Linked DNA regions of Homo sapiens: regions 1 and 2 are each linked to region 3. Evidence: fine-mapped expression QTL. A gene starts in region 3. Each other region holds a variant in brackets. All regions are shown on one strand. Distances are from middle to middle.

The links. PIP is the estimated chance that this variant, and not a neighbour inherited with it, causes the effect.
Region 1: its variant is fine-mapped to the expression of USP31 in whole blood (TOPMed, PIP 0.97).
Region 2: its variant is fine-mapped to the expression of USP31 in transverse colon (GTEx, PIP 0.99). The same link has a PIP of 0.9 or more in esophagus mucosa and thyroid.

The regions. Positions count from the first base shown.
Region 1 is chr16:23,063,337-23,066,096 of GRCh38, forward strand. USP31 (ubiquitin specific peptidase 31) reads right to left here. Exons shown (of 16, transcript NM_020718.4): 16 at 1-2,760. Among named protein-coding and RNA genes, the nearest start is that of USP31, 85 kb to the right of the region's middle. The variant T/C (reference allele first, on the strand shown) is at 1,484.
Region 2 is chr16:23,070,264-23,073,023 of GRCh38, forward strand. It overlaps USP31 (ubiquitin specific peptidase 31), which reads right to left. Exons shown (of 16, transcript NM_020718.4): 15 at 1,782-1,934. Among named protein-coding and RNA genes, the nearest start is that of USP31, 78 kb to the right of the region's middle. The variant A/G (reference allele first, on the strand shown) is at 1,388.
Region 3 is chr16:23,148,162-23,150,921 of GRCh38, forward strand. It overlaps USP31 (ubiquitin specific peptidase 31), which reads right to left and starts at 1,291. Exons shown (of 16, transcript NM_020718.4): 1 at 477-1,291. The coding sequence starts at 1,109. RefSeq lists silencers at 432-661, 792-891, 992-1,041, 1,192-1,291 and an enhancer at 1,472-1,691.

The DNA of each region.
Region 1 (2,760 bases), 85 kb before region 3:
AAGCCCCAAAGCTTTTCAAAATAGCTCTAAGTCTCTATAAAAGCATCTTTTAATTCTTAGCACTATTAGAAGCCACATTCTTTCCTTGTGACCAAAATAGAACCCTTGAAGATATAAAAAATTAAAATCTATAGAAAATGGCAGGTTATTTTTAGAACAAAACACTTTAGGAAAGTCTTCAGGCTAAATACAGTATGTACACCAATGATGTGTGTTCAACATATCCAATTCCACTTCTGCTTGCAAAATACTTTACAATCTCGCCAATGATCAGAAAAACAGCAGAGAAATATATGCAGAGCAAAACAAGAAATCGCATTCATGCTCTTCTACACAATGATGAGTAAGCCATATTTTGAAAATCACAAATTTAAAAATAGAGCTCCATAATTGTTGCCTTTTTTTTTTAAGACTTAACATTTCATGTCTATATGTTTTATTGTTTGCTTGCATAGGTAGTAAGAGCATGCTTTCTGAGTTATATGGAGGCCACGCACAATTGTTTTTACTTGGGGAAAAAAATGGTCATGCTCAAAATGCATCTGCAAAATACTTTGAAAGTTGATCAAAAGGCAGTGTGAGAGTGTTCATTTAAATAAAACCACTGGATTTCTCCCCAAACCATGTAGTAGAGTTTAACAATAATGTACCCTTTATGAAATGAAAGTTAAAGACAGCCTGCACAGTAACAGCTACTTTTTGTGTTCGTTTGTGATAGGTACTGGTTTGTCAGCAAAGTTTGCCTTTCTCAACTACAAATAATACAAAGTTCCACGCACCTCCAGAATACGTGTTTTATTGAAACTGTGCTTATGACTTGCATACTATTTCAAAAATCCAACCCAGAAACACTAGTTAAATCTTTGTATCCAATAATTATAATAACCTACATTGGAAACAATCACTTCGGCTGTTCAGTAATTTGTCCGAATGAAATGTAACGTCTGATGCCCCTCTATGTGAAATAAAGCACGCTTATTTCAAATAAATGAGCTTTGTTCACAGCTCTTCTCTGCTCCATTTTCCCTAAAGGCTGCCACTCTTGGTCCCTTTACATACTGTTGCTATTTTTTTCATGATAGTTATTTTAAGGGAATGACAATGTTCCCCTCAAATCCCACATCCGTCTCATACAAACATAAGATGACCCAATGTTAACGTAAAGTGACTGTGTAATGGATTTTCAACCCCTAAATAGTAGAGACAGCTCAGTCTGAAAAGGTGGATGGAAGAGTAAAATGTCTCTAAAGATGAAGGGCACTTTTGGTTTCCAGAAGGAACAGACTTGCTCAAGAGAACCACAAGCCTTAGCCGATTTGACCGGAATCCACGTGATCTCTTTTCCCAGGAGAACTGTCACTCCATTTAGGACACCATCACATCCCTTGCTTGATGGGCTGTGCTCCCAGGGCTCCTCAGCTACAGCAAATCCCTGAAGCTTTCAGTTTTGCCTCTGTGCTCAAAGAAGGCCCTCCATAAACGT[T/C]TGCAGAATGAATGATGAAAACAAGATTGCAAAAGCGTGTCAGGCAGCCTCACAGATAATTACAGTATTTTAGCACACCACAAATACTCCCACATCCGTTCCCACTGGTCCAGCATATTATTACTTACTTTCAGTTCAGCTGCTTTCAGGACGAGAAAATACAAAACGGATGGGAAATGGTCTAAGATGACTGGAGCCTAACGGTTTGAGTTTCCACATTATCTAAGGGATTACCAAGGCAAGATGTAGGGCTGTCTTAAGGAATGATACGGCCTCAGTGCAATGGATGTTTACAAGAAATCAAGAATAAAACTTTAAAAAGCAAACAAACATTACAGATACAACATTACTGTTGGTGATTATTTTGTGCCTACCAGGAGATGACTGCTCTAATCAGGCCCATCTAGATGTCAACGAGAAACCCAGGCCTATCATCCCTAGCAGATAATTTTTAACCCCAAAGCACATACACGCTCATTGTGCTAAATATTGCTGGGAAAATTAAAAAAAAAAAAAAAAAGAAAAGAAAGAAAGAAACCAACACCAAGTCCCCAACCCTACCAATGAACTAAATTGAATCAAGTAACTACTTTCCCACAAGATACTTCCCACCTCAAGGAGCACCTCCAAACTTTCGGGCCAAATAACCTTTCCTGTGGCCTAAAGTTGTACCTAGTAGTTGGAGATAATGAAATTTTCACTGTTTACCAACTATGGAAATAAAATAGCTTCATGATGTCTAGACAATGCCATGATACTTCCTGATTTTTTCTATTAAACCTGAAACAAGGACTAAACTCCATGACATACAGTTTATAGACACTGACATTTTATTCCAGATCCCATGGAAAACCAAAGGGATTTGTAGAAACGTTTTTCCTTTTTTTTTTTAAGTCACTAGACATCGTGGAAAATCCATTCCTAGATAACTCAAGAATAAAAATATTTACCACTGTGAAAATTAAACTAGTTTCTATTAATGCTTGACTACAGCAAAAAAGAAGTGTTATTAAAAACCTTTGTCTAATCAAACTATAATTGTTTCAGAGATTCAGATAGGAGACTTCAAATGAGATCTACCTATTAAACAAAAATGAGAGGTTTGAGTTAGACATTCAATTCCTGATATAGATGATCTCTTATTTGGTGCATCTTTTTCAGGAGATAAAAGCGATACAGAAAAACGAGAGCGGTGGCTACACACTGATGGGGCTGTGATGTGCTGGGCTGAACGCAATGACAGCATCGAAGGCAGCCAGTTGCCGCAGATGTACTGA
Region 2 (2,760 bases), 78 kb before region 3:
TAATACCAGAACCCAGAACCCCTTCCCGCACCACTCAATTCCACATGTAAGCTGGCCTGTCATTGTTGACTACAGATGTGGATCAACGCAAAGAGCTAAAAAGACTTGGATATCATATACTCCTAAATCCAGTAACTTAAAACTTCCAAAAAAATATTCATAATCAGAGGCCAGGCGTGGTGGCTCATGCCTGTAATCCCAGCACTTTGGGAGGCTGAGGTGGGCAGATCACGATGTCAGGAGATCGAGACCATTCTGGCTAACATGGTGAAACCCCGTCTCTACTAAAAATACAAAAAAATTAGCCAGGTGTGGTGGCAGGTGCCTGTAGTCCCAGCTGCTGGGGAGGCTGAGGCAGGAGAATGGCGTGAACCTGGTAGGCGGAGCTTGCAGTGAGCCGAGATCGCGCCACTACACTCCAGCCGGGAGACAGAGACAGACTCCGTTTAAAAAAAAAAAAAAATACTCATAATCAGAACCACATACTCCTATTTGGTGTGGCTCAAAACGTCCTAAGAAAATATTCTAAATTAAATTTTCTACACAATGATACTACAGTTGTGATATTTACAAAATTCTGTCTTTATAGAGCCTAAGAAACAGGCTCTATTCTGTGGGCACCACCCAGCACCATTATACAATGATGATGCTTAAAAGGATACTGATTTCACCAACTGCACTGCTTAAAAATAGACTGAGGCAAACCTTATTGAGGCTTATCGTTAAAATGACAGTGAATTCTAAGTTTAAAGGCAGTACTGAAAATAACCTCTGCCTAAACAAGCAAAGGTTCACCAGTCAGTTTTCCATAAGATGTGAGGAGCCGGAAGGAGCTTAGGAATTGCAGTCCAATGTTTTTATTTTACAAATAAAGAGGAAGAGGCAACAAGCCAGAAGAGGTGGCAGAGCTAGAGCTATGGTGCAGCTCTCTTCACCTGGCATTCTTCTTCCAGCCTATTGCAATTTTAACTCAATTTCATTTTCTCAGAATTATCCATCACCACTAGAAGCAGATTACAGTGATCGAAATGCTGGCTGCAGACTGAGACTTGTTGGCAGATTGAGTCACTATGCTCATTATAGAAGCTGCACTCACTCCTTCCAGCTCCCAGTACTGTGGCTGCCCGGTCCTTCCCACACCACCTGGGTCCCTGTCGAAACTAAGGTCTATCCTGCCATTACCCAAGCAGAAAGTGAAAGTTTAAAAAGAAAAAAAAAAAAAAAGAGTTCAATTTTTATCGGACTTTTTACTATCTCTATGCAAAGGCAACAACAGCTTTTGTTTTAGATGCTTCTGTACTAAAAAGAACATTCCACAGCTTCCTCCCTGGGGAGCAGCATGTTGGAAGGTGAGGCTCTCCTGGGGCCAAGAGAGCCAGGGGCCTCC[A/G]TGCCAAGCCTGGAGCCGACTCCCCACCACGTGGCCTGGGCAAAGCACAATCTCTCTGAGCCTCTTCCAGCTATCCTGCTTTTTAAAACACTTTGGGAAAAAAAAAAAAAAGTATACATTGGTATATAAAGCTCCAGCCTCCACAAGAGACCTTACAAGTGGAAAATAATGAAGTGGAAGGAGAAAGTACTGGGACACAGGAAAAGCAAATGACTCTGTTAATACAAAATGCTTTTTAGGATCATAACTCACAGCTACACAGCTCCACTCCCTGTAGCTCCCTTTGGGTTCTCCTACCATCTCCTTGGGACTTAGCTCCTAGGAAAAACACGAGGGACTCTGCTGTGTCTGTGAGTTACCATTCTGGAAATTTGTCACCAAAACCCACACCCACCATCATCTTCACTCCTTTCTCCAGTCATCTCCACGGACTCAGAGAGCGACGCCAGGGAGGTGCGTCTGGAGGAAGCTGCAGAGGTCACGCTGGCTGGCTTGCTGCCCGGGAGCCGGCTCACCCAGTGTTCACACAGGGAAGAACTTGTGGAGCCTGCAGAGAAGAAAACAGGCATAGAGGTCAGGCTGGGGTCCCTCGGCCAGCCCTGAGCCACACACACCCTCATGAAGGTGTTACGAGCTGAGCTGGGGGGCGTTGATGTCCTCACCCCGAGGTCAGCATCAATTCCCAGACCCTGTGTCATGTCGTGCCTGTCCGAATATCCCCAGTTAAGATGAAAAGATGTAAGGCAGACTTCCTGACGCATGAAATTTGTAGTAATAAAATGCAAGGATAGGGATGAATACTTTATAATGTAAGTCTGAGTCTAAAGAATTGGCAAGAGAATGGAATAGACAAGCACTCATACATTCATTCTACAAATATTTATGAAGCATCTACATGCCAGGCACTGTTCTAAGCAATTGCAGTAATATTTCTTACACAAAGAGAAGAGAGGATGCGGCAGTATACTCTTTTTCTCTCAGCCTGTTTTAAGGAAATTTGTCACCATTTTCATAATATTAATAATACACACACACAGCTATATGTCAATCTGCCCTGTCTGTTCCAGGGACGCCCTTAAATATTTATTAGGGCAAGAGAAATTGCTCTTGAAACAGAGTACATGAAGCAGCATGACTGTCTCAAGTAGACCTCAAGAAGGTGTCATTTCTGAGCACATCTGAGACTGGTGGAAGAGCACTGGAGTTCCCGCTGTGTTAACTGAGTGAGTGGCTGTACACTGGGTGGGCTTGGCCCCCAGCAGGGCGTCATTCTGCTTGAGAGATGCCTTGTTTTCACTGCTTTGAACTCACCCCCTGCAAGCTTCAAGAGAAGCAAGGATTCATAGCCCCTAACCTGATTGCACATCACCACA
Region 3 (2,760 bases):
TGTTCGATTTAATATATTAACTTGTTTGCAGCTCACAACCACCTTACAAAGTAGGTCCCCCAGATGAAGAAACTGTAAGAACAGAGAGGCTGCTTAACTTACCCGACGTCACATTGCTAGTAAGTGGCAGAACCAGGATTTGAACCCATGCTCAACACTCCCACCCCACAAAAATGCAAGTTCCATGAAGGCGGATAGTCTTGTTCATTGCAACGTCACTCCCATTGCCTATTATCACAGAGTATGGGCACGTATGTAGTAAGTTCTCAATAAATACATGTTTGAGTGAGTGAGTGAGTGAATAAATGAATGAATGAATGAATCTCCTTAAAATCACTGGTCGACTGCCCAGACCACTCGGAGCAACCAATGCAGAAGCCTGCCGGGCCAAGAGGAACCGAGGGAAGGAAGACCTGGGCGGGCAGGTGCCCCAGGGGCTCGGGGTGCAGTGGGGGCGCGGCGGCGCGCGGGCTCACCTTGAAGTCGCGGCTGTGCTGCGGGGTGTACTCCAGGGTCCAGAGGGCCCGCACCAGGTGCGCCAGCTGCTCAGTGACCTCGCCCTGGCCCTGCGCGCCGCGGCCCGCAGGCTGCTCCGGGTCAGGCGAGGGCTCGGGCCGCCCCGCCCGGTACTGGCCCAGCGCCAGGTACTCGGCGAAGAGCTCGGTGTTGCTGAGGCACTGCAGCGTGGCGTTCATGAAGCACGTGTTGCCGTGGTTGCGGAGCCCCGCCACGCCGGGCACCGGCTCGGCGGCGCAAGCGGGCGGCGCGGGAGAGGCGGGCGGCGGCGGGCACGGCGGCGGCGTGGGCGCGGCGGCCGGCCCGGGCGGGAAGCAGCTGCGGAGGCCGCCGCGGTCTGGGGCGGCGCCCTCAGAGCTAAGGTGCGAGAGCGTGGACAGCGTCTTGAGAACGCGGCTCATGAAGCTGCCCACCGAGCGTGCAGAGGAGGGCGAGGAGGGCGAGGAAGGCGCGGCCGGCCCGGACGCCCCGGGGCCCCCCGCGCCGCCGCCGCCAGCGCGGCCGCTCCGAAACAGCCGCTTGCTGAAGGAGCGCTTCTCCTTCCCGCTCGCCGCCGCCGGCGGCCCGGACCCAGGCGCCGTTACCTTGGACATGGCGGCGGCCGCAGACACTCATCACCGCGCCCGCCCGCCCGGCCCGCGGCCCCGCCACGGCCGCCGCCGCATCCCGCAGCGCCGCGCCTCACCGGGCCCGGGGGCTCGACGCCCCACACACCTCAAAGCGCAGCCGAGCCAGCGAGCGAGCGGCGGCCGGCGGGGCCAGCGGGCGCGCGCGCGGTCCGCCCAGCTGAGCCGCTCACGTGACGTGCCTCCCGGCGCCGCCCGCCCGGCGCTGAAGCCGCCTCGGCCGCCATGTTCACTGTGGGACGGTAGCTGCCTCTCCAGCCGGACGCGATGCCTGGAGGCTGCGGGCGCGGTCCTGCTGCGTGAAGCCCGAGGGAGGCCATGTCTAGTGTGGGCGCCGTCCCGGCTTGGAGGAAAAGGCTGGGCTCCCGTTGGATGGTGGATCCCCGGGGTGGGTCTCTGTCTTTGCTGGTCAGATGGCAGAGGCGGGAACGTGCAGGAATCAGGATGCTGTCAGTTACCAGACCGTGCAAGAGCTGGTGGACATGGCCCTGACAGGTCCTGGGCAAGTCAGCCCTGTCTGGCTCCCAAGGGACGTTGCAGATACCTACCCTCTGGGTGCCAGCGGAGCGCAGTCACAGACCCTGGCACGTCCCAGCGGGCTTTTCTTCCTGGCTGCACCTTGGAGTCCCAGCGAAACGCTGTTATCATAACTACTTTCCTTTTCATTCCAGCCTTTAAAACTCCTCCGGGCTCTCCCATCATTCATCATTCCATTCATTCATTCACTCACTCATTCATTCAGCAGTTACTGGGGATATTGCAAAGAATTAAACCTATTAAATTAGAATCAAATGTCATATCCCCAGCGGATTAAATTAGCACGGTTTCTACCTGCCCTCTTGCAGCTTACATTCCTACTGGGTGTTTACAATAGCTGTTGTGTTCCACACATTATGCCAAGCATGCAATATTTTCTTTAATCTTTAATTCACCGTCTTTGAGATTGGTACAGTTCTTATCTGATTCAAACCCAAGTTTTATTTACAACCCCTATACTTGACCTCTAAACCAAAGGTCACGAATCCACAAATATCACAGGTCACAAACCCACAAATGAGTGAAGAATCCTGGTGTTTGAATCATCATATTGACTTTCAAGTGACTTGGGTCTCAGTGTTGGGGGAAATATAAGGAATGATGGGGACTATAGCAGACTTCAAATTAACATCTTTCTAAAGAGGTGGCTGCCACTCAGCTCCAGCCAGTTGTTCCCATGTGAGAACAGGAGCTCAGCGTTACCAGATCATCTGATGTTTTAAGAGAAGGCAGAAATCCTATTTTTAAACGTTGGTTCCATTAAAAAAAAAATAGTGCAGGGAGCAAAAAATAGTACATCTTTGGGATGCCTTTAGTCCAAAATCAACTAGTATATGACCTCCTCTCTATAGGCTCCCCTCTGCTAAAAGGGCTAGTCTGAGTCCTGAGGCAGAAGAGAGAAATCAGAGAAGGGAGAGCCCTTCCTCCTTTTTAAAACATGAAGGCCACCTTACACCACGTTTCAAAGTAAATGGTTTTTACCTTTGACCTCCCTCCCCAATGTAAGTAGGGCTCTATGATGACATCTCCAGGGTGCTCTGCACTGTCCCTAATCGGCTCCACTCTCCTCTTAGTCAAAATT